Linked DNA regions of Homo sapiens. The protein of the gene in region 4 purifies or fractionates together with the protein of the main gene of each other region. This does not show direct contact. Each region holds a gene or a part of one and is shown on either strand. Other genes may lie near its edges.

Region 1 (3,500 bases), on a different chromosome or scaffold from region 4:
CATACACACACACCCCCACCACCCACCTACCCACACACACCCCCTCCACCCACCCACCCACACACATGCACACACATACACACACCCCCCACACACACAGTGGGTACACATGTGATTCTGAATGCAGTCATAAAGCACAATTATCTTGAATTGGACTGTTCTAACAAGTGCTTCATGTAGCTCAAGTCAACTTTACAAAGGGGAAAAATGGAGTCTGACTTTCCTGTCTGGACAGCAGCAGGAAATAGATGATGTCTCTGAAAGACAGGCTTATCTCATTCCATTTAGTCTCTTGGCATGTGTCATTCATGCTGCTGCTACTGAAGATCATGGAAGTTGAAATGATTTCTTAAGTTACTGAAGACTGTTTTCAGAAAGGTGGAACCACAGAGACATGATCATGAAGATAAAACTATCTGAAGAGTCTATTTGGGAATCAGATTTTTTTCTGAGTTTCTAACTGCCTTTTAAGATATGCAGAACTATCAGTTTCATAGTTCCATTGTAACATTTTAAACTATTACAAAAGTGAAGTTTTTTTCCCTTTTCTCCTGATTTTAAATATAAGGTAACTAACTCCAAGGAAGATGAGGCAGCTCGCCCCAGGTCCCAGTGAAATCAGTGATAGAGCTCTCTCCATACACAGCTAGGTCTCACTCCTGAAATTTTCTATACTATGCCATGGTTGTTTCCCAACTGATGACATGCCAGAACATCTTTAACTCTGCCCCAATTTTAGTATTTTCACTTATATTATCTGAAGCTTTTGTTCAAATCGTTGATGTAAATTGAAATTCTTTGTGAAGCCTGGGCCCTTTTTTTTCTATCTAAACGTTCTTTAAATTGCAATATGAACAGAAAATTAGATTTGGAAATGACTCCCACCAAAGCACGAAGGCTGCTCTGGCAGGCAAGTAATGGGAGATTGTTCACAGCCTCACAAGGGACACATGAATACTACCAGCATAGTCATTAATGCCAACTGAGATTCAAAGAGAACATGTCATACAGTGCCAGAACTAGAAATGGGCTTGTTCTTATGGATGAAATGTCATGTAACAATCATTTTTTTCAAATCATAGAGTGAGCTGCTAAGTAACTCTCAGAGGAGTTCTATTGTTCTCCACTGGTTTGTTCTGGAGTCAGTACTTCTCACCAAGATATTAGGCAATTACCAGGAAAAGCAGGAAAATAAGCACTGTAGGCATATTTTCTCCCCCAAGATTTCTAAAAAGAGTCACATTTAATGTTTTAAGATTAAGAATATATTATGAAAAGTACTACAGGGATGTTTTATTCCTCTGTGATAACTTTCATATATACTGGTGGGTTGTTTGTTTTTGTTTTTTGAACCAATGCTCACTTTCTTGAGGTACTTTCTCTTTAAAATTTTGTTCAAGACTGCAAGTGTGTAAACTCATAGAAAAGATTTGGACGAGGCCAGGCACAGTGGCTAAAGTCTGTAATCCCAGCACTTTGGGAGACCAAGGCCAGAGGACTGCTTGAGCCCAGGAGTTCAAGACCAGCCTGGGCAACACAGGGAGACCCTGTCTCTTAAAAATAAAAAATTAGCCAGGTATGGCAGTAAATGCCTGTAGTCCTAGCTACTTGGGAGGCTGAGGCTGGAGGATTACTTGAGCCCAGGAGCTCAAGGCTACAGAGTAAGCTGTGATCGTGCCACTGCACTCCAGCCTCGGTGACAGAGGCAGACCGTGTCTCAAAAAAAAAAAAAAAAGAAAAAGAAAAAAGGAAAAGATTTGGAAGAATAAAGACCAAACCTAAAATAAATTATCTCTCTGAAGGGGAAGTTGATGACTAGGGGGTAGGGATGGTACAGACTCATTATCACGTACTACTTGCTTAGTTTTAGTTGCCCTAAGAAGCATTTTTTATATTTACTGGAGACCTATGATTGTTAAAGACCAAAAAATATAAGCTTCAATTTTAAGTGCTCTCTACCATTGATTTTACATAAAGCCCTAGGTAATAAACATATATCTTCTTTGATATTTTCTAATTATAAGGCCCTGAATGCCTACCTCCCATGCGCCACTTTTTATATATATAAACACTTAACATATACACTTACACATATTTCCACATACACACTTTAACATATATATACAAATCTGCAAATATCAATCAACCTATAGGAATAATGCCTTTAAAAAATCTGCAAATGAAAAGAAACAGACAACTCTGAAATAGCTATAATGGGTTTACTTCCTTTTCTGACCCAGATTCCCATGTTTATGGCACTATTACTGGTATGTATCACAATTAAAGCACTGTATTAAACTATTCAATGACAGCTTTTTCAAAGAATGGCAGTCAACTCACTTGCTCCAAGCCAAAAATGGAATAGGAGAAATTCATGTATTTTAGGACACAGTAAGGGTGTGTGCCTGGTGGCACACTCTATTTTTAGGAGTTATATTGGGAAACTTGCTTTGTGTACACATGTATAAAAAAAAAACAGTAATAGAAGGGTAACTACATGACTTATTTCATTCTTACATCTCTGCCCAACATGAATAAGGTAATGTCTTCCCAAGAGCTTGTAGTTTTAACTCACTATTCCCAAAGGCTTATTTCTACATTTATATACATAACTAAAGGGGTTCCTTGATGACTTTATGGCTTATGTTCAATAAATTTTAAAGTCTGTAAAATTTCAAATATATGCACTAGCAGTAAGTAAAAATGTATTTTAAGGGAATGACAGAAATCTGAGTACACTAACCTAGAACTTGGAATGGAATTATAGCTCTCAGGTAACTATCAGCATGTGATGCTCAGAGGGATAACATAGATTAATTCTGCCACTTTATCAAGTGATAGGCTGTCAATATCTTTTCCTGGACACTGTTCATGACTTGATATATAATATGGTTTAAATTTCTGTCCTTGCCCAAATCTCATATCAAATTGTAATTTTCAATGGTGGAAGAGGGGCCTTGTGGGAGGTGACTGGATCACAAGGGCAGACTTCCCTTGCTGTTCCTGTGACAGAGAGTGAGTTCTCACAAGATCTGGTTGTTTAAAAATATGTAACACCTCCCCCTTCTCTCTTCTTCCTTCTCCGGCCATGAAAGACATGTCTGCTTCCCCTTTGACTTCTATCATACTTGTAAGTCTCCTGAGGCCTCCCCAGACAAGTTTCCTGTACAACCTGCAGAACTGCCAGTCAATTAAACCTCTTTTCTTTATGAATTACCCAGTCTCAGGTAGTTCTTTATAGCAATGTGAGAACAGACTAATAGTTTTAAAAATCAGTATAATAGCAAATCATGTTGTGACACTTGCATCAAGAGGAATCCACTGCCAAACCCTAGTTTTTCCCATTAATACAACTATTCTTTTTTTTTTTTTTAATTTATTTTTTTATTGATAATTCTTGGGTGTTTCTCACAGAGGGGGATTTGGCAGGGTCATGGGACAATAGTGGAGGGAAGGTCAGCAGATAAACAAGTGAACAAAGGTCTCTGGTTTTCCTAGGC
Region 2 (3,500 bases), on a different chromosome or scaffold from region 4:
AAAACATAATAATCTTGCGGTGGGAGGATTCCTAGACAAAATACAACACTCAGAAGCCATAATGAAGAGACAGATATGGCTATGTAAAAGATGTAAACTTCTGTGCAATCAAAGGCACCATCAACAAACCTAAGAGATAAGCAAGAAATTAAAATATTAGCAACATACAACAAGCAAAGGGCGAATCCTTTGTCAGGCAGAATTAAAAGATATAATTAATATATCCATAATACATAAAAGGTATTTGTGATTCATAAGAAAACAAAAATAACCCAATAGAAAATGAACAAAATTATGAAGGGGTAATTTTTAGAAGAAATGCAAATGGCTACTAAACATGAAAATATGTTCACTTTCAGAAGTAATCAAAGAACTGCAAATTAAAGCTAGATACTATTTTTCATTAATCAAATTGGCGAAAATTAAAATGACTAATAATATCTACTGTTGGAAGATATGGGAAAATGAACATTCTCATATACTGTGGATATAAATTTTTACTACACCTTCAGAGAACAATTTAAAAATATATGTCAAGATGTAAAATATTCATGTGTGTTAACCCAGCAATTTCACCTATTTATCTTTAAAAAACATTTTTAGAAATCTATTTATTTATTTGGAGACCAAGTTATAAGACTGGCTAACTTTTGTGTCTTTGATAGAGGCAGGGTTTCACCATGTTGCCAAGGCTGGTCTTGAACTCCTGGGCTCCAGTGATCCACCCACCTTGGCCTCCCAAAGTGCTGGGATTATAGGTTATGCCACGGCACTCGGCCTCACCTATTTTATCTTACAAATAAACTCTCAAGTGTAAAAAACAGACTACAAGAATGTTCACTGTAGCATTACCTGAAAGAGTTAAAAACTAAGAAAAACTTCAGTAGGAAAATGGTTTCTATAAAAAGAATTTGGACTGCATTAGCAACAGCCTCTTACAGCAGTAAAATTCGATGATGGGTTAAACAATTTAACTAGCATTGACTTACAAATCGAGTCATTCATATGTCCCATGAAATAACACAGGATTTAAAAGAATGAGACAGTTCTATATTTGTCTAGAGACAAATATATTGTTAAGTAAAAATAGTAAGTTACTGAAAATACATATAGCATCACCCCCTATGTAAACAAAAGGGTATTTAAATAGCAAAAGTATTTATTGCGCAATTACTGCGCCAGGTACTAAATGCTTTGTATGAATTAATCTTATATAATCTTTGCAATAATCCTATAAGACAAGAATAATTCCCATGTTCATTTTACAGAAAAGGAAACTGTGGCATAAAGACATTAATAAACTTGTCAAAAATCATAGTTATTCAATAGGATAGTAGAGTCAAGATTCAAATGCAAATAGTCCAATTCCAGAATCCATTATTTTAACCACTATACTTAATACTGCTTCCAAAAAGAAGTTGCTGTCAGTTACTTCATCAGTAAAATACATAATTCTTGCCCATTCAGAGACTAAACATAGTTTTAAAAAATCTTTTTCAACAACCTAACTGCCTACTAACAGAATAATGGCTAGATATTGGTATAGATGTAGAATGAAATACATACATTTAAAATGTAGGACTAGAATTGCAAACATTACATCAAAAACAAAAAGTTGCATAAAAATAGAATTTTGGACTGGTATAAACTTTGATACCACTCTTAAAAGTTTTAAAATCTGCAAAACAATATCCCATTTATGTATAAAACTGGCATGGGATAATATAAATGCTCAATTCATGACAACAATTACCACTGGTGAGAAAGGAAGAAGAATGGGATCCAGGAAAGGGACCAGTAGACCTCAATTTATTTAAGGCAAGTAACTGAAGCACAAAGTTAAAATTTAGTAAAACCAAGTTGTGGGTATAGGGATGTTCACCACATTAGCCTTTTTTGTTATCTTCGTGTTTGAATTATTTCCCAATAAAGTAAATAATTTTTAAAGCTCCACAGGCGATGCCAATGTACTGCCAGTTTGGAGAGAGAGAAAAAATTCAATTTCAAATGCTAGTCTAGGCATCTTCTTTTTGATCCTTATAAAGCATCCAGGCCCTGTGACTGATAAATTCTAATCTATTTTTTCCCCAACATCTACTTCCAGTCTTTTGGAAATTAATTCAGAGTATAATGTAATCTACAATCTTTGCATGTATCTTTGTCAACATCTACCCTATGGAACATAAATTCCTAGAAAACAGAAAAAAATCTTATTTTCTTAATCTCCCATTGCTAGGTGACCATGTGCCATGGTTTCCCACCTGCTTTCCTGGCAAAATTATTAATAGTGTTCCCTTTCACTTTCGAAAGTGTCCCACCAGTTTGGATGGTAAGTTGCATAGTCAGCCCATCCACTGCAATAACTTATGATAGACATGACTGCTCATCTTCTCAGCATTGCTACATATAACTCAAAAAACATCATAGTACTTTGCTTTTCACTTTCTAAAACTTACCCCTCTTACACATTAACAGGTACTTTTGAACTGCTTCAAAAGCTAAAGAATTTATATGATTTTTCCATTTGTATCACTTTATCAGGGGGAAATTCAGAAAAGATAATTTGTTTTAAAAATAATGCCTACAGTTGAGGCTTTATATTACTCTGCCCTCAAAAAAACTCCAGAATATAACTAGAATCTTGTACAGTAATTTAAATAACACTCAAAGAAGAATATGAATCTAAAAATGGTAAATAGTAAGCACAAGGTATACAATTTTTTTGACCCAGAACATATTATTTTCTTAATGTAGATCAATTATGGGTCTTTAAAAAAGACTGTTTCCTTATGTTTTCATTTTCACAGTTCAAAATTATTTAAACTGTTAAGTTCAAATAAAAGACAACAGACATATTACCTGCATTTAAATCATTTACTGGCACTTGCAAAGTAGCTGCAACTTTTTTTAAAATGTTCTGCATTTCTGGTCCAGTTTTGAAGGCTTCCACGTGATAAAGAGCTGTAGCATTTTTTTCTACTTCAGTTAAAAACTTCTCACAGTGATCAAAAAATCTCATTAGTTTATCATTAACTGTTGGAGGTCCAAACTCCATATCTGAAAGAGAAAAAAATTTATATGTATTTGTAAATCACTGACATAAATGACAGTTTCAAATTATTGAAAATGTTAAGTGTGAAAAAGGAACACTAACATCTTACTAATCCGCACAGCTGAAATAAGCACATATTGGTCAGGAAACTCTTGGGGTAAAATTATTCCCCATTTATAATGGCTGTAACGCATGAGAATAGCTAGAAAAGGCTAAAGAAATAGAGATTGAAGATTAAATGTGTTGTAGAGATGCTACGCAATGAAATTGCATCATACATTAATAAGTACTGTTTCTGTCAGGCACGGAAAACTTTAGAAAGCAAACTAAAAATCAGCAAAGTTTCTACTTACAAGGTGAGAGAGAATTCAACATATGGAATCTATTTTTTCACTCTAAGCCAAAGTCTAAACAGAGTATTTTATTTTCTCAATTAACCTTCCCAACT
Region 3 (3,500 bases), on a different chromosome or scaffold from region 4:
CACCAAGCACGATTCTGATTTTTTAAAATTGATGATAGTTGGAAAATAAAACACATTTGCTAAGGCCTGAATGTTTATGTCCTCCCAAATTCCTGTCAAAATCCTCAGCCCTCAGGTGACGGTAACTGAAGGCAGGGCCTGTGGGAGGTGATGAGGTCACAGGGGCAGAGCCAGTGTGAATGGAATCAGTGCTCTCATAACAGAGGCCCCTCGAGAGCTGACGGCCGTCTACAAATGGGAAGCAGGCCCTCCCGAGACACCGAGTCTGCCAGTGCGCTGACGCAGGACTCCCAGCCAGCAGAACTGTGAGGAATTCATTGCTGTTGTTCATAACACGCCCGCTTTCAGTTTGGCTATAGCAGCCCTAACAGGCTGGGATAGTGTCTGCCCACTTAGCTCTTCCATCCACTGGGTACAGGAGAACAGGTGTCACTTCTCCTGCGTCAGGAGACACTGATGTTTTGTTTGGGGCCAAACTAGTATGAAAAAGATCGCTGGTATCTTAACAGGTAGTAAAAAATCACTGAAAAATAGCCACAAAACTTTCCCACCACGTGCAGTGGCTCACGCCTATAATCCCAGCACTTTGGGAGGCAGAGGTGGCAGATCACTTGAGGTCAGGGGTTTGAGCCCAGCCTGGCCAACATGGTGAAACCCTGCTTCTACTAAAAATACAAAAATTAGCTGGGTATGGTGGTATGCACCTGTAGTCGCAGCTACTAGAACAGCTGAGGCAGGAGAATTGCTTGAACCCAGGAGGCAGAGGTTGCGGTGAGCTCAGATAGTGCCACTGCACTCCCAGGCTGGGGGACGGAGCGAAATTGTTTCAACAACAACAGCAAATGCTTTCCCATTCCCACATCGGAAGGTGAACACGACCTCCGTTTCTAGACCCGGCCCCTCCTCATTACCTGACAGGACGAAGCGTTGGCACAGCTAAGGCTGCCCTTCTTGCCCCCCAGCTCCACACTCGCAGAAGGGCTCACAGCAGGTCATGGTTGTCAGTAACAAACCCTGACCTACTGAACAGGATAAACCTGCAGACAGAAACGTGCCTGCGGAGGGAGCAACTCCAGCTCCTCAGACAGTTCAGGGAGCGCTGAACTGAGCCCTGAACGAAGTCAACGAGGAAGTGACTTCGGGGCAATCAGCCTCATCTATTTACTTTCATGAAGAAACCCAAGTGAACCCTGCTGCGGACCAGAAAACCGGAGCACTTCTGCATTTAATGTCACCTTACTGTGACATCTTAATTTCCCAATTCAAGGGTTTCAAAAACTAGTATTTGTTAATTTCCTGTATTTCAGATGTCAAAGTTTGCATCTCCAAATCTATCACTACCAAACACTCTTTATCTTTCTTCATCTGGGACAAGGGACACGACTACCTCTGTGCCTGAGACACAGTGTCTCAGCCCCACTATCTGGGCTCCCAGCACGCTTCCTCTCCAAGAACACAATTCAGAAGTCCTTGGGCCACGGAAGAGAGACCTCCTTCCCCATGGTCAAAAGTGGAGTGCAGGCCCCCGGCTGTGGAAATCAGTGCTCGGCTCCCTGAGGGGCGATGCCTTAAATATTCCACCACTGGGCAGCGTGCACCCCCTTCCCATGTGAGCGCCAGCTGAAACGGAAGTGAGGGCGGCAGGCGTTTGTTCTGATTAGAAACTCCACCGACACCGGAATAAAGTGGATTTCAGCTAGTGCTGAGCCCTCCCCAGGGAAATGGTATGGGGTGCTGGACAACAGCTCCTAAGTCCTCAAACAGCCACGCAGCCAGCTTTGTTTCTGCTTCATTTTTAGACAAAAACTGGGGCACTGTGAGAGGCAGACATAGTAGGTAATGGTAGGGGCAGAGCCGCCTGCTGGGTTCCCCGACTCAACAGGGTAAGCCCGGGGTGAAGGACATGCTGCAGGAAGTGACTTCGGGGCAATCAGCCTCATGTACTTTCACGAAGAAACCCAAGTGAACTCTGCTGCGGACCAGAAAACCAGAGCACTTCTGCACTTAATGTCACTTTACTGTGACATCCTAATTTCCCAATTCAAGGACTTCAAAAGATAGTATTTGTTAATTTTCTGTATTTTAGATGTCGAAGTTTGCATCTCCAAATCCTATCACTACCAAACACTCTTTATCTTTCTTCATCTCAAATACCTTAGCTGTCCATCCCCAAAAGGTAATAAGACTAGTTAATCGTGACCCTGTAAACTTGGAAATACGACTCTTCCAGTGCATCCAAGTGAATTCCAAAACTGCTGGGTTCGAGGTGTTGCTTAACTCATGGTGTTGCATCCACTTCTGAGAGCAGACAGCTGGGGTTCATCAGTTAGGTGTTTGAACAGTGGAAGAAAGGGCAATGTTATTAGAAGATGGCAGAGATGTCTAGTGACAACATTATAGCTTCAGAAAGGATGTTCATAATTATCGTTACATTGTACTACTTCAAGTTCCTTCTTAATAGTTTTACTTGAAAGAAACCTTATATAGAACAGCATTGCCAAACATTTTCCATATTCTAGTCAGTTCCAAAAAGGTATAATCATTGCTGCAATCCAAGGAAGCTCATGTTCAAATGATTGAAACTCAAAAATAATTTAAGAGGCAAATCCATTTCTTGACCTATTAGCTGATCTACTATGTATTTCCAAATGTAGCTGTTCCGCCGACAAAGACAGAACTGCTAGAATTGAAACAGAACAAATTAATCTGAAGTTATTACTTACCAGAATGCAGAAAATAATTTCCCCACTGCTCGCACTGATGAAAGACTTCGCACTGTGCAATTTCGTTTTCATGATGTGGAAAAGCTAAATCTATCCCACCTGAATGGATATCCAGTTGACTTCCAAATACCATACTGCAAGACACAGTGCAAAGTAGTGAATTCATTCAATCAAGCAACATATTTTCTTCTAACCTCGTCTATTTATTCCTTCCAGCCTTTTTAATTCAATGAATAAATGGATCTCAGTTTTGCATCAATTTGCATGATAATTTAACTGATTCAAATGAAAACTGAAATCCTGTCATCACAAGCCCGTAATTCATGACTTTTCATCCTAGTAAAGGCACTTAATTCTTTTTGCTCCAGGTTCTTTTTTTCTCTTTTTCTTTCTTTCTTTTTCAACTCAAAAAATTACCTTTACTTACTTTCAATAGGTAGAGTTTAGTGGTTTTCCAATTTTAACAAGAGATGGAACTATAAAATCATGACAGTGTTTCATTTGGCTTTTGCAAGTGTAACTAACAGTCACCTACGAATAACAAGGTAAGAGAGTTCAAAGCAACACAGGTTGCCATTTCTCCTACAGTGCTGTGCCATGCCTCCATAAAAACCGCGTTTCTGCAAACCCATACAAAAAAATTAATGGGGTTGATGGGGGAAATGAGGCTGGGCCAGCCCACTCGAAGCTCTGTCCCTGGACCAGCTGCAGAAGCATGGCGACGCAGCAGGCCGGTGGATTTTCTTAAAATGATAGATAGAGAAATTTCTAAGGTGC
Region 4 (2,651 bases):
CCTAGAACTCCCTCTTGCTCCAACTTCCTCAACTTCTGTTGGCAATGATGTCATGTCTTCCTTCTAACTAGAAACTTTGTTTTCTCTCTTAGAATTACCTCTCTGAACAGGACTTTGTGTCTGTGTTTGGCATCACAAGAGGGCAATTTGCAGCTCTGCCTGGCTGGAAACAGCTCCAAATGAAGAAAGAAAAGGGGCTTTTCTAAAGCAAGAAGGCCTATACCTATTGCAAGGCCACAGAAAAGAGCAGATAGTGCCAATATCAGGAAATAATTTATCCACCAATTTCTGCCTGACATTCAGCTACTTAATTTAGATATAATAGAGTCTGCAAATCACGGCATGTTCTCCATTTTTTCTCATCCTTGCATTCCTTGCTTGTTATATACCTAAAATGTTAACCATATAGTTTTTGGGTTTTGTGGCCCTCTAGCTAAAGCCTCAGCAGAAAGCACTAAAACTGCATAAATCTGGAGAAATCAAAAGAAAGAGAACCAAAAAACAATGCTTAAAATGTTTAATAACTTTATGTTTAATATTATACCAGGACCTACCTTTGTTTTCAATTTTAAGATGATTATTTCTAAAATCTATTTAGCCTGTAAATCATTGAAATCATATATGCACTCCATAGGCAAAATCCAAATACCCAGATCTGTAATGTGTCAAAGCATTTTTCACTTTTCAAATAAAGATACCTATAATGAACAAATGGAGTTATTTTCAGTATTCTGGGTCTGCTTGTTACGGTAATTTTATGTTATACTTGAAGAAATGTTTCAGTACTGGGGAAGTAAAGAGGCAATGTTAAGTGAGCTCTCTGGGTAACTGGACTACTCTAATTTCTGTTTCTGGCACAAGAATGTCAAAATCTGCCTTACAGCTGGCCAGGAAACCTCAGTACCCACCCACCCACACATCATCCAAAAGAGAAATAGGGGCATGTGTTATTAATTTCATTAAATGAGGCCAGAACCAGTGTGTCTACCACTGCAGAGCACCTTCAAAGCATACTACAGACAATCACAAAGAAGAGAACCCACATTTTCCAGACAACTCTAGGTTTGAATCAATAATCCTAAAGAAATCCATGTGGCACAAGTAATATAACTAGGGAGGTTCCGAGGCAGAAGCACGGTTCACAGTGTCGCAAAGCAAAAACAGAACAAAAGAGTTCTATGTCATAAAAGGTGTAAGACAGAACATATAAGTTAGAAATTTCAGAAATACCATAATAAATCTATGTTGAAGGGAGCAGCAGTATTGTTGATGCCTGTTCTCCACGACACTATCACGTCAATAAGGCCCACCTGTTGTTTTTGAAAGGCACAGAAAAGCTAAATCCAGTATTACGCAAACAAGGAAAAAATTATTTTTATTATACAACTATTTAATAATTTTACCCATGCATTCTCGGTCTGAAGAGGTTTGGGAAATATTCCTTTTTGTAATGATGTCCAGAGCTAAAAGTAAATATTCCTCCTGGGCCAAAAGTCTCTGGAACCTATTCAGTTTCTGCTGCCTCTTCACCTTCTCCACATTCAAACCGCACAAAGTCTACTACCGACACCCCCTGAGGCTGCACATACTGCCCCAAGGTAATGGAGGGATCCAGCAAATACGGCTGGGACAGCATCTTAGTCTCTGCCTCTCCCCCAGGCTCATCGTCCAGGGAGCCAACAGAGAGGGGGGCCATGCCCACCACATGCTGCCCAAGGCGGCGGCCAACGTCTTCAAGGTTTGTTTTCTGTTCAGACGTCTCACAGATGACCAGGGCCCCATACTTCCCCAGCACCAGCTTGTGAAGTGAGGGACTCTGCATTGCTCCGTGGACATAAGAGCCAACGTAGAACCCAGATGGCACCTTCACCCATGCAGCTCGTTTAAGAATCATGTTTTCTCCCAGTTTTCCTATTAAAGCAAAAACAAAAAACCAACACACCAACAAATTGTGATGTCTGTGATGGTACCAAAATATGCACAGAAGAGGCCCAGTTTGGAAGACAGTCCCTTTGCATTTACATAGGATATGCAGTAAGATGAAGAGATACCATTTTCAGTTTTTGTAGAAAGAGGAAAAGGGGTATGGGGCAGGAGAGCGGGAGTGGGGGAAGTGAAGAATACCTTTATGAAGCACCAACTATGTGCCAGGCACTCTGGTACTTAAAAACAGGCCGGGTGTAGTGGCTCACGTCTGTAATCCCAGCACTTTGGGAGGCTGAAGCGGGTAGATCACCTGAGGTCAGGAATTCAAGACCAGCCTGGCCAACATGGATGAAACCCTGTTTCTACTAAAAATACAAAAATCAGCTGGGCGTGGTGGTGTGCACCTGTAATCCCAACTAATCAGGAGGCTGAGGCAGGAGAATCACTTGAACCCAGGAAGCGGAGGTTGCAGTGAGCCGAGATCGTACCATTGCAGTCCATCCTGGGAACAAGACTCTCTCCAAAAACAAAAAAAACAAAAAAAACAACAAACATAGGTTGTATAGGTTGTGGTGACACAAGTATGTGTGACTCAGGTCTCAGTTCTGCCTATTTACTGACTATATGACCTCGGGCAAGTGACTCAATGACATAATCTCATTTACTAAATTTATCAAGCCTTTGTTTCCTCACCTTTAAAATAGAGATGACACCACCTACCTTTC
Region 5 (3,500 bases), on a different chromosome or scaffold from region 4:
TCTCTATTAGCCTAATGGTGTCCTCTGAGACTGTATCCTTGGATTTCTTCAGCTTGTTCATTGAGTTGGTGCGAACCTTCCGTAAAGAGTCTTTGGCCTTGTTGGTGTTCTGTTTGGCCAGTTTCACCAGCATTTCTCTGTGCTCTCTGGTTACTCTGATAAAAGACAAAAGACATTCAACAAAATCATTCTATACATTAACTGCTGGCCAAGAATTTAACATCACTCTGTCAACCAGTTCAGCAGTTTGTAACTTTCCTCTCTGTGGGCTGAACTCCTGGAATTTCCAGGAGGAGGAAAACGCATGTATAAAGGCTTTAAGTTGCCCAAACATGGGCAAACTGGGTTTGACTTTGTAGAAGGTACCAAACTTCCCAGTGAGAGAACTGGGATTCAAATCCCAATATTTCTGGCCTGTATTCTTTCTGCTACTCTTCTAATCTATTTCAAGTAAATCATGCACTGCTGCCATTACTTCTGCTTCCAGGCAGAAAGCTCTTCACAGTCAGTAATATGAAGCTTGGGACTGAAAAGGACAAAACCATCAAGAGCCCATGCTTCATTTAAGGAATTGGCTGGAGCACTGATAACAAAGAAAGGAGTGACAAGAAAAGAGGCTGGGAAGCCATATCACAGACAGTCTTGCAAGGTCACGAACCACGTTTTACAGATGAAGAAAATGAGGCCCAAAGAAATTTGGTACCTTATACAAAGTCAGACCCAGTCAAACCCAAGCTGGCCTGTCACAAAAGCCAATGGTCTTAGTATGACAGCATTCCTCTGCCCCCTGGGTCCTGAAATGGACATGCTTATGCTTCCTTACTCTCAAATCAACACGGTTCTTGCTCAAGGAAGGACAATCCTAAGTTCTGGGTACATGTTCAGTGTGGAATAGTGATGAGCAGCTGTTAAAGATTTAGTAACATCTACCTTACATTTTCTCTGCTGAGAAAAAAAATTAAAGAATTTTGAGAAAGAATAAGCTCTGAAGTGAACAGTTGTATTTACGTAAATCCTTTTGGATTCAGCTATTTGAAGGTATTCTCAAAACAACAATGAGTCTAATTACTACTATTATTAAACCGTTCTATGCCACATGAGTACTTTAAGTGTGTTACTTCATTGAATCCTCACAACTCTTCAAATGAGGAAACAGGCTCACAGATGTTAAGTGACTTGCCCATGAGCATGAGTGAGAGAACTGGGATTCAAACCCCGATCTTTCTGGCCTGTATTCTTTTTACTCTTGTAATCTATTTCAAGTAAATTATGCACTGCTGCCATTACTTCTGCTTCCAGGCAGAAAGCTCTTCAAAGTCAGTAATATGAAGCTTGGGACTAAAAAGCACAAAACCACCATGTCAGGAGTTTAGGGATTTGGATCAGATCTTGTTACTTTTATGGTTTTTAATTCATTGAACAAAAATCATGCTGACATGTTTAGGTCTCTTTTTTGTTCTGCCAAAGCATATGTCAGTATAAGGAAGGAACAGGAAAATTAAAACTTGATCCACTGATTCAAGAACTTAATCCTGCTGAAATACTAAGAGGGGCAGAAAATAAATGAATCTAAGTCTTTAAGAAACCTCATAAACTTCTCCAAAAAGAACATACTGAAGTATTTCAATATTGCATTTCACATAATTTCAAATAGGTATCTCACTGTTTAGAAAATGCTTAATCAAAGAAAAAAAATTATCTGATCAACTTTTCTTTTCACTACAATGTTATATTTTAAATGGAGGAAAAAACATACATTAAAAAATATAAAATGAGACTCAAAAAAATCTTAAGAATTAAAGGCTACAGAAAGAAAACAAAATCATAATATAGGTAATTTGGCCTTAATAAAATGTATTACTTTGTATTTATTAATGCAAATGTGACATTACCACACTATTAACACCAGTTTCCACATGTAATCGTGTCCAATCACTGACATTGTCAAAAATATTTCCATTTCAGGATGCAAAGAGGCAATAATCAAAAAGATACTACAAGGAAATGGAGAGTGGAGTGCAGTGAGAAGGGAGAAAGGGAGGGAGGAAGACAAACCATGCTGGACACAGGGAGGGCTGAGGGGGAGAAGGGCATGTGTGTGCTGGTTCAGGGTACTGAGCTGAAAGGTATCTAAAATACAAGATCAGAAGCAGTTAGGGTGATGGCAAGGCACTGGTTTTGAAGTCAGACAGACTAGGTTCATACCTGTATCTATTGCTCAGAAGCTGACTATCCTTGGGCAAGTTACTTAATCTCTGTGAGCCTCAGTTTCCTTATCTCTAAAATGAAGATTTAAAAAGACACCTTACAGGAGGATTAGGAGAAGCAGACACAACAGATAAAGTACCAATAAAGAGAGCAGCATATATAGTAGCCTTGAATAAATGATAGTGTTTATGAATGTTTTAATCAAACATGTTTAATTACTTCCTCATGAAACAATGAGGGCATATCTGTTTTAGAAAATAAACATATTTTATTATGGAAATATTTTCATTCTTTTCCAAATGTGATTAATACATCTGATCATCTCCACCTTGCATTCCTGGGTTTCTGTGAGTATGCACTAGAGTTTGTATTCCAGGCTTCTGAACTCAGCTGGTTAGTTCTGAGTACCCACTTTAAGTTGATGTGCATTCACCCATCAAGCACTGACTGAGCCTCCTACGCTCTGTGCCAGTTCTTGGGCCAGACCAAGGAGCTCCAGAAGAGGCAGACCTGGCCCACCTTTTCCAGAGGCTCAGACTAGTGGTGGAGACAAACTTGTCAGCCACTACGTAGAAAGAGGATGACTGTTGCTAGTATCTACTGCGGAAGGAGCATACAGAAAACACAACACTTCTATCTTGAGATTTGGAAACCGCCTTATGGATGCACAGTAACTTGTTAGCTGCAGAAGAATGCAAAGTGCATTTTGGGAAGCACAGTGGGAGATGTAGTGGAGGGACAGCATGAAGCTGAAAAGGGTACATCCCAGTCAAATATACTCTACAGGCCTGGAGTTTTCAAATTCTTCTTTAGCCACAAACCCCTGGCTCCAAAGAAAACTGAGGCAGAGGCCCCATTTGCAAAACAGATAAAAAGAGACTACTTCAGTTGATGAGGAGGAGCGGTGGGCTCTATCCCAGGCTACAAAACTCAGATCCGACCCCACTTCTGGGCCTGCCACTTACAAGCTGAGTGACCCTATGCAAGTTATTTAAACCGTCTGAGCCTTGCTCTTCTCATTTGGAAACAGAAATTAAAAACAAACAAATGAAACAGAACCTCCCTTTCAGAGTTATTGTGAGATTTAGATGAGGTAATACATGGGAAGCATCCAGTACAAGGCCTGATAGAGAATAAACACTCAGGAAATGTAAACTGTCTCTGCTGCTGTTGTTGGTTACATTTTTGGAAGCCCTGAAGCATCTTCAAATAATGAAAGTTTTTAATCAACAGAGGAATGACAGAGCAAAGATCTATGCTATGGCAAGATGACTTTTTGAGATCTCACTGGT
Region 6 (3,500 bases), on a different chromosome or scaffold from region 4:
GAAATGTAAAAATGAAGGTAAATATAAAAGACCTTTTTTTGCTAGGCATGGTGGCTCACGCCTATAATCTCAGTACCTTGGGAAGCTGAGGGGGGCAGATCACCTGAACTCAGGAGTTCAAGACCAGCCTGGCCAACATGGCGAAACCCTGTCTCTACTAAAAATACAAAAATTAGCCAGGCATGCTGACATGCACCTGTAATCTCAGCTGCTAGGGAGGCTGAGGCAGAAGAATCATTTGAACCCGGGAGGCAGAGGTTGCAGTGAGCTGAGATTGCGCCACTGCACTCCAGCCTAGGTGACAGAGCAAGACTCCATCTCAAAAAAAAAAAAAGACATTTTTAAATTTTTAATCTCTTTAAAAGATAATTGACTGTTTAAGGCAAAAATATATACACTGTAGGTTTTTAAACATATGTAGAAGTAAAATGTATGACAAAAATAGCACAAAAGATGGGAGAAAGAAATGGAAATATACTCTTGTGTGATTCTTACACTACATGTTAAGGGTATGATTCATTTAAAGGTAGGCTGTAAGAAGTTAAAGATGCATATTGTAAAACCTACAGCAACCACTAAATAAATTAAAATAAAAACAAAAGTGTATACTAATAAGCTAACAGTGACGAAAAAAGGAAATCATAAAAACAACACACCCAATGGCCAGGCATGGTGGCTCACACCTGTAATTTCAGCACTTTGAGAGGCCAAGACAGGCAGATCACCTGAGGTCATGAGTTCGAGACTAGCCTGGCCAACATGGTGAAAAACCGTCTCTACTAAAAATACAAAAATTAGCCACATGTGATGGTGCGGGCCTGTAATTCTAGCTACTCAGAAGGCTGAGGCAGGAGAATCGCTTGAACCCAGGAGGCGGAGGTTGCAGTGAGCCAAGATTGTGCCATTGCTCTCCAGCCTGGGTGGCAAGAGCAAAAACTCTGTCTCAAAAACAACAACAAAAAAATCTTTTCTTCAGCCTCTTGGGAACTTTCACTCACTGATCCCTCTCCTTAGCTCTGTCCCTCCATGACTTTATACTTCCCTTCCTATTCAGCCTAGTATCTACTGTATATCATTTCAACCAATCCTGCCAAGATCCTAAACTCCCTTGCACAATCATTCTGCCCAACTTAACCTGGCCAAGTAACAACTCTAGACAAATCCAAGTACTTGGCTCTGTGAGCCTACAACAGGCCTGAATCATATCGATTCAGTATTACCAAACTAATCAGCCCTCAACACTGCTGAACAACTTTATCATTCTCCTCAGTTAGCAAATCTTTCCTATTTTCTGCAATTATGAGAGCCTTCCCCTCAAACCTCTCCCATTCTAGTAGCCCTTGCCCTCTGAACTTAGACATATTCTAGTCTATTTAAAAATAAAAAAGACTTACTTCCTTTAGCCCCAAGTCCCTATCTATAGATCAACCCCCTCTTTCTTCTCATCCTTCTTGCATTTCTTATTGAAATTGAACCCAGACTGGGGACTGTGCCATTTTTCCCATTTGTTACTACTGTTCTCTTACACCAATGTCTTTTTTGACTGCTAAACTTCATTCTGTAAAGGCAAAATAGAAATTTTTTTCCAAAAGGAAAAGTCTATATGCCTTCTGTACAAACTTGTGAAATTAGACTAAATGGGGAATCATCACGAGTCCTTAAGTAAAGGGCAATAGATAAAATTTCCAAAACATTAATTTTTTTAACAACTTTTTTTTTTTTTTTTTTGAGACGGAGTTTCACTCTTGTTGCCCAGGCTCGAGTGCAATGGCACAATCTTGGCTCACTGCAACCTCTGCCTCCTGGGTTCAAGGGATTCTCCTGCCTCAGCCTCCTGAGTAGCTGGGATTTCAGGCACCCACCACCACGCCCGGCTAATTGTTTTGTATTTTTAGTACAGACAGGGTTTCACTACGTTGGCCAAGCTGGTGTCAAACTCCTGACCTCAGGTGATCCACCCACCTCGGCCTCCCAAAGTGCTAGGATTACAGGAGTGAGCCACCACGTCTGGCCCTATTTATATGCAAAATATATAGGCATTTTTGCCAGAATAGGCAAATATAGACATACAAAAAGTAGATTAGTAGTTGCTTAGGGACAGGGAGTGTTGGGGTCTGGGAAGCAATAGATAAAAAGTTGTGGTGGGCCGGGCACAGTGGCTCACATCTGTAATCTAAGCACTTTGAGAGCTCGAGGTAGAAGAATCACTTGAGGCCAGGAGTTTGAGACCAGCCTAGTTAACATAGCTACATCCTATCTCTACTAAAAAAAAAAAAAAAAATTTATTTATAATAAATAAAAATAAAAAGTTGTGGTGATGGTGACACACAACTCTGTGAATATACTAAAATCACTTAATTGTATACTTTAAATGAGTGAATTATATGATGCTGTGTGCTTACATCTTAAAAAGCTGTTATAAAATAAAAACAAAATAAGTGCCTCTTTGAGTGTCTCTGTGTATGATATGATCCAATCCTCAAGATTGTTAAATGAAAAGGAAGTGGTAGGACATTCCATGCATGGAGTATGCAACAATTTGTATAAAAGAATAAAAACAAGGCTGGCCATGGTGACTCACAGCTGTAATTCCAACACTTTGGGAGGCCAAAGTGGAAGGATCACTTGAGCTCAGGAGTTTGAGCCTGGCCAACATGGCGAAACCCTATCTCTACAAAATATCAAAAATTTGGCTGGCATGGTGGTGTGTGCCTATCATCCCAGCTACTTGGGAGGCTGAGGTCGGGGGGATGGTTTAAGCCCAGGAGGTGGAGATTGCAGTGAACTAAGATCCTGCCACAGTGTACTCCAGGCCTAGATGACTCAAAAAAAAAAAAATAAAGAATAAAAACAATGTAGCATGTTACCACTGGTGTAAACAGACCACAGACCACACATACATATGTTTGTACCTACATAAATACAAACAACTAATTGCTCTCTTTCCGTTTTTTTACCTTGTCATCTAGCACTTTTTCCAAATTCTCACCTTAACTGCAAAAATAGAACAGAGATTGAAATTACTAAAGGCAACTTACAAGCAAAGCGGAGTGGACGACTGGAGGGTTGGGATGGTCCATAAATAAAATAAGGCCAGGCAGACATCCCTGATCCTGGACGATGGCTCTTCTGTTTAACGGATCTGCTGCTAGATCCCGTAACTGGTTAACTACCGATAGAGCGTCAGGCTCTTCACTCATGGTGGAAGTGGAAGAATTCATCTTCTATGCCATGCACATGAATAAAATCTTAAATTCTGTAGAAAAGGTTTGCAGAATTAGTTCTAGGCTGCTGAGGTATATTATAGCACTTGTGAAATAACCAGGATTACAACACCTTTAGAAAGAATCAGGTAACTAAAACTAAATCACATAAAAACTTAGAAATCGGCAACTCTACAGTTTGAGAAAAGTAAAATGAACGTAAGACGACTGAAAAAATTTGTGTGCACAATGTTTAAAGAACATATGTTGTCCTCAATATTCCAATAAATTATGTTT
Region 7 (3,500 bases), on a different chromosome or scaffold from region 4:
TTACCTACAACAGGTCCATTTTCTTTTCTAGATGCTCGAGGTTTTGAAATAGTTTTGTTCATGATCTGTAATATCTCCTTTTTTGCCACTAGAAGAGAAAAACACAAAAATTATAACTACATAAAACAAATATGATCTGAAATACTGTACTCTTAGTTTTCACGGTATACAATCTAAACCCTGTAGCTTAATAATTGAAGCTTTCCACATCCCTATTACCTTGAAAATTCACTCATATTCTCTTCTCCAAAAATCCCATCTTAAATAGAGTTGTTTAATTTGTAAAAATTGAAATTTCACTGGTAACCCACTTTGGCGTGTATTCATGTGTCCCAAAAACTTAGTTGTGCTTCTTCTTTTTTTAAAATAGATATGGGATCTCACTACGTTGCCCAGGCTGGTCTTGAACTCCTGGGGCTCAAGCAATCTTCCTGCCTTGGCCTCCCAAAGTGCTAGGATGAGCCACCATGCCATGCCTGGCTACTTAGTACTTCTTTTTTTTTGAGACATTTTCCCTCTGTCACCCAGGCTGGCGCGCAATGGCATGATCTCGGCTCACTGTAACCTCTGCCTCCTGGGCTCAAGCGATTCTCTTGTCTCAGCCTCCTGAGTAGCTGGGATTACAGGTATGCACCACCATGCCCGGCTAATTTTTGTACTTTTAGTAGAGACAGGGTTTCACCATGTTGGCCAGGCTGGTCTCGAACTCCTGACCTGAAGTGATCTGCCTGCCTCGGCCTCTCAAAGTGCTGGGATTACAGACATGAGCCACCACACCTGGCCAGTACTTCTTGATCTAAGTTATATGAAATTCCACTTTTTAAAGCAATATTTTATAATAAGCCTAATGAGAACTATAGTTCCCATTAGCAAAGTGGAAAAGAATGAAGGGAGAATCAAGCACACTAGCTCACCTGAAGCTTGTTGAATAGCCTCCATCACAATTTTTATTGGTATTCCAGGTAATTTAATATCAGCCTAATATGGAAAAGTCAAACAATTATATAAATATTGACTCATGGCATTATTTAAATGTTACAAAAATGAAACAAAATGGGTTTTAAAAATACCTGTAATGCAGTTATTCCTTTATTAGTGCCAGCTATTTTGAAGTCCATGTCACCATTGTAATCTTCAATTCCCTTCAGGAATTTAAAAAGTTATGACATAGTTTTAAACAAAAACAAAAGTCAACATATTCACTGTAGAAACATTTCAAAAAACAGCTTTAGAAGTAAACCATATCCTAAGTCCAAACACAAAGCAATGTTTTCTACATTAACTACCACTTCCAATTTGTGACTTTTTAAGCTACAATTATTTTCACCAGAAACATCATTTTATTTTTAGATCATTCCTTTCCCTCATAAATGCCTGAGAATGAATTTATGCTCATCCTAAAGTGAGTCATTATGAATACTTACACTGTGTAAGTATTACTGCAATACTTAAGGGTAAGTATTACTATTTTTTTAAAGTAATCATTTTATTTTATTTTATTTTACTTATTTTGAGACACAGTCTTGCTCTGTTGCCCAGGATGGAGTGCAGTGGCACGATCTTGGCTCACTGCAACCTCTGCCTCCCGGGTTCAAGCAATTCTGCCTCAGCCTGCCAAGTAGATGGGATTACAGGTGTGTGCCACCATGCCCAGGCTAATTTTTGTATTTTTAGTAGAGATGGAGTTTTGCCACATTAGCCAGACTGGTCTGGAACTCCTGACTTCCCAAAGTGCTGGGATTACAGGCATGAGTCACTGTGCCTGGCCTATTACTATTAATATAATATCTATTTTAAATTCATATCCTATAAGATACAAGGTGAACATGCAGAGGAGGAAGGGAAGAACAAGTACCTGTTCTTCAAATACTAGCATTCTTCTAAGCATACGCTAGGTGCAAAGTACATATAGTCTTCACCATTATTTGTTTTTATCTTTTAATTTTTATTTATTTATTTTTAGTCTTCATTATTAAATATTTGAAACCGAGAATATACTTGCCAAAATATCTGTCAGCAAACGATAATCTTCTATTTCACCCTTCTCAGGATCGGTTTTGGTGACCAATCCTATTGCTACGCCTGCAACAGCAGATGAAATTGGAACCCCTATAATTGGGAAAAAGAACAACTGTGGGTAATGTGTACATGAGCCTAAAACAAATATTTATCTATCAATTTTTTTTTTTTTTTGAGAGGGAGTCTCGGTCTGTTGCCCAGACTGGAGTGCAGTGGCATGATCTTGGCTCACTGTAGCCTCTGCTTCCTGGGTTCAAGCAATCCTCCCACCTCAGCCTCCCCTATAGCTGGGATTATAGGCACCCGCCAACACGCCTAGCTAATTTGCTTGTATTTTTAGTGGAGATGGGGTTTCAACCATGTTGGCCCTGTTGGTCTTGAACTCCTGACCTCAGGTGATCTGCCAGCCTCAGCCTCCCAAAGCGCTGGGATTACAAGCGTGAGCCACCGCGCCCAGCAGACATTTACTTTTAATGTAAGTGGATATTGTTGCCTAAATTGACAATCACCGAAGCTGAGTTGGAAGTCTTAAGAGGTCATCTGACTACTTCGTTTGTTTTTGAACATATAATAAAGTTCCCTAAAACAATGTAAACAAGTACTATATCCAGCAAAAACTTCTCTAACAATAGCAAACTTTATAACTTTTAAATTATCCGTTGGTTTGCTTTTTTGCTTCAGGTGTCTTATTTTCTTTTTGTTGGAAAGTAAGCATCTATTTGGTAAATTCTTCCAGCCTGAACTCCTCAGTTTACCTCCCCATGGCAGCTAACATTAGTGTATCCTCCTAGAAAATTTCTGTGCACAAGTATAAATGTAAATATAATCTTTTGTTTTCTTTACTCGTGGCGGCAGACTGTATGCATTTACTGTTCTGCACCTTGCCTTTTTCACTTAATAACATGTCTTGGATATTGACACATACCACCACACAAAGCTCTACTTTATTCCTTTGAATAGTTTTAGTACTCCCTGTATGTTTTACAAGTCACACACAGAAGTGCGATTGCTGAGTCAAAAGGTATGTGCATTTACGTTTGTTAGACTGTCAAACTGCCTTCTAAAGACATAGCATTTTAAACTTTTACCAGTGGTGTAAGAAGGTATATGCTACTCTATATTCTTATTAATTCTTGTCAAATCTTTTGATTTTTCTCAATTTAAAGTGTAAAAAATGGTTATTTTAAATCTGACTTGTTTTTTATGACTGAGGTTGAAAACTATTTCATGTTCATAAACCTATTTATATGTCTTATTTTGAGAACTCCCTGTTCATGGCCTTCAACACTTTTCTACTTGGTTGGCAGTCTTTTTATTACTGATTTTCTTTCAATATGGACAGAGCTTTATTAAAATGTAAAGATAAAATATTATGTTTAATAACATATAAATAAAATATTTTATTTCCTAGTTCGTTGACTTTGCTTATGGTCATTAGTTTTCTGTGTAGGATTTTTAGTTTACGTAATCATGGTTTCTGG

The links.
Region 1: the proteins of TSFM (region 4) and CLIC4 fractionate together in Homo sapiens (co-fractionation; one large-scale study listed by BioGRID). This does not show direct contact.
Region 2: the proteins of TSFM (region 4) and MINPP1 fractionate together in Homo sapiens (co-fractionation; one large-scale study listed by BioGRID). This does not show direct contact.
Region 3: the proteins of TSFM (region 4) and CARS2 fractionate together in Homo sapiens (co-fractionation; one large-scale study listed by BioGRID). This does not show direct contact.
Region 5: the proteins of TSFM (region 4) and MRRF fractionate together in Homo sapiens (co-fractionation; one large-scale study listed by BioGRID). This does not show direct contact.
Region 6: the proteins of TSFM (region 4) and ARMC1 fractionate together in Homo sapiens (co-fractionation; one large-scale study listed by BioGRID). This does not show direct contact.
Region 7: the proteins of TSFM (region 4) and PNPT1 fractionate together in Homo sapiens (co-fractionation; one large-scale study listed by BioGRID). This does not show direct contact.

Annotation. Positions count from the first base shown.
Region 1 is NC_000001.11:24,800,947-24,804,446, reverse strand, and holds part of CLIC4 (chloride intracellular channel protein 4), read right to left. Parts: intron 1-3,500. UniProt on the Homo sapiens protein: In the soluble state, catalyzes glutaredoxin-like thiol disulfide exchange reactions with reduced glutathione as electron donor. Can insert into membranes and form voltage-dependent multi-ion conductive channels.
Region 2 is NC_000010.11:87,507,893-87,511,392, reverse strand, and holds part of MINPP1 (multiple inositol polyphosphate phosphatase 1 isoform 1 precursor), read right to left. Parts: exon of another isoform or gene 3,189-3,500; coding exon of another isoform or gene 3,155-3,188; intron 3,058-3,154; coding exon 2,860-3,057; intron 1-2,859. UniProt on the Homo sapiens protein: Multiple inositol polyphosphate phosphatase that hydrolyzes 1D-myo-inositol 1,3,4,5,6-pentakisphosphate (InsP5[2OH]) and 1D-myo-inositol hexakisphosphate (InsP6) to a range of less phosphorylated inositol phosphates.
Region 3 is NC_000013.11:110,664,617-110,668,116, forward strand, and holds part of CARS2 (probable cysteine--tRNA ligase, mitochondrial), read right to left. Parts: intron 2,858-3,500; coding exon 2,724-2,857; intron 2,313-2,723; coding exon of another isoform or gene 2,155-2,312; exon of another isoform or gene 912-2,154; intron 1-911. UniProt on the Homo sapiens protein: Mitochondrial cysteine-specific aminoacyl-tRNA synthetase that catalyzes the ATP-dependent ligation of cysteine to tRNA(Cys). In addition to its role as an aminoacyl-tRNA synthetase, has also cysteine persulfide synthase activity.
Region 4 is NC_000012.12:57,795,437-57,798,087, reverse strand, and holds the end of TSFM (elongation factor Ts, mitochondrial isoform 2 precursor), read right to left. Parts: intron 1,912-2,651; coding exon 1,505-1,911; 3' UTR 501-1,504; downstream 1-500. Other genes in the region: AVIL (advillin), read left to right, coding at 93-206. UniProt on the Homo sapiens protein: Associates with the EF-Tu.GDP complex and induces the exchange of GDP to GTP. It remains bound to the aminoacyl-tRNA.EF-Tu.GTP complex up to the GTP hydrolysis stage on the ribosome.
Region 5 is NC_000009.12:122,309,882-122,313,381, reverse strand, and holds part of MRRF (ribosome-recycling factor, mitochondrial isoform 1 precursor), read right to left. Parts: intron 156-3,500; coding exon 1-155. UniProt on the Homo sapiens protein: Responsible for the disassembly of ribosomes from messenger RNA at the termination of mitochondrial protein biosynthesis. Acts in collaboration with GFM2. Promotes mitochondrial ribosome recycling by dissolution of intersubunit contacts.
Region 6 is NC_000008.11:65,624,178-65,627,677, forward strand, and holds part of ARMC1 (armadillo repeat-containing protein 1), read right to left. Parts: intron 3,257-3,500; 5' UTR 3,222-3,256; coding exon 3,039-3,221; intron 1-3,038.
Region 7 is NC_000002.12:55,645,345-55,648,844, forward strand, and holds part of PNPT1 (polyribonucleotide nucleotidyltransferase 1, mitochondrial precursor), read right to left. Parts: intron 2,110-3,500; coding exon 2,003-2,109; exon of another isoform or gene 1,929-2,002; intron 1,143-1,928; coding exon 1,071-1,142; intron 979-1,070; coding exon 915-978; intron 89-914; coding exon 5-88; intron 1-4. UniProt on the Homo sapiens protein: RNA-binding protein implicated in numerous RNA metabolic processes. Catalyzes the phosphorolysis of single-stranded polyribonucleotides processively in the 3'-to-5' direction. Mitochondrial intermembrane factor with RNA-processing exoribonulease activity.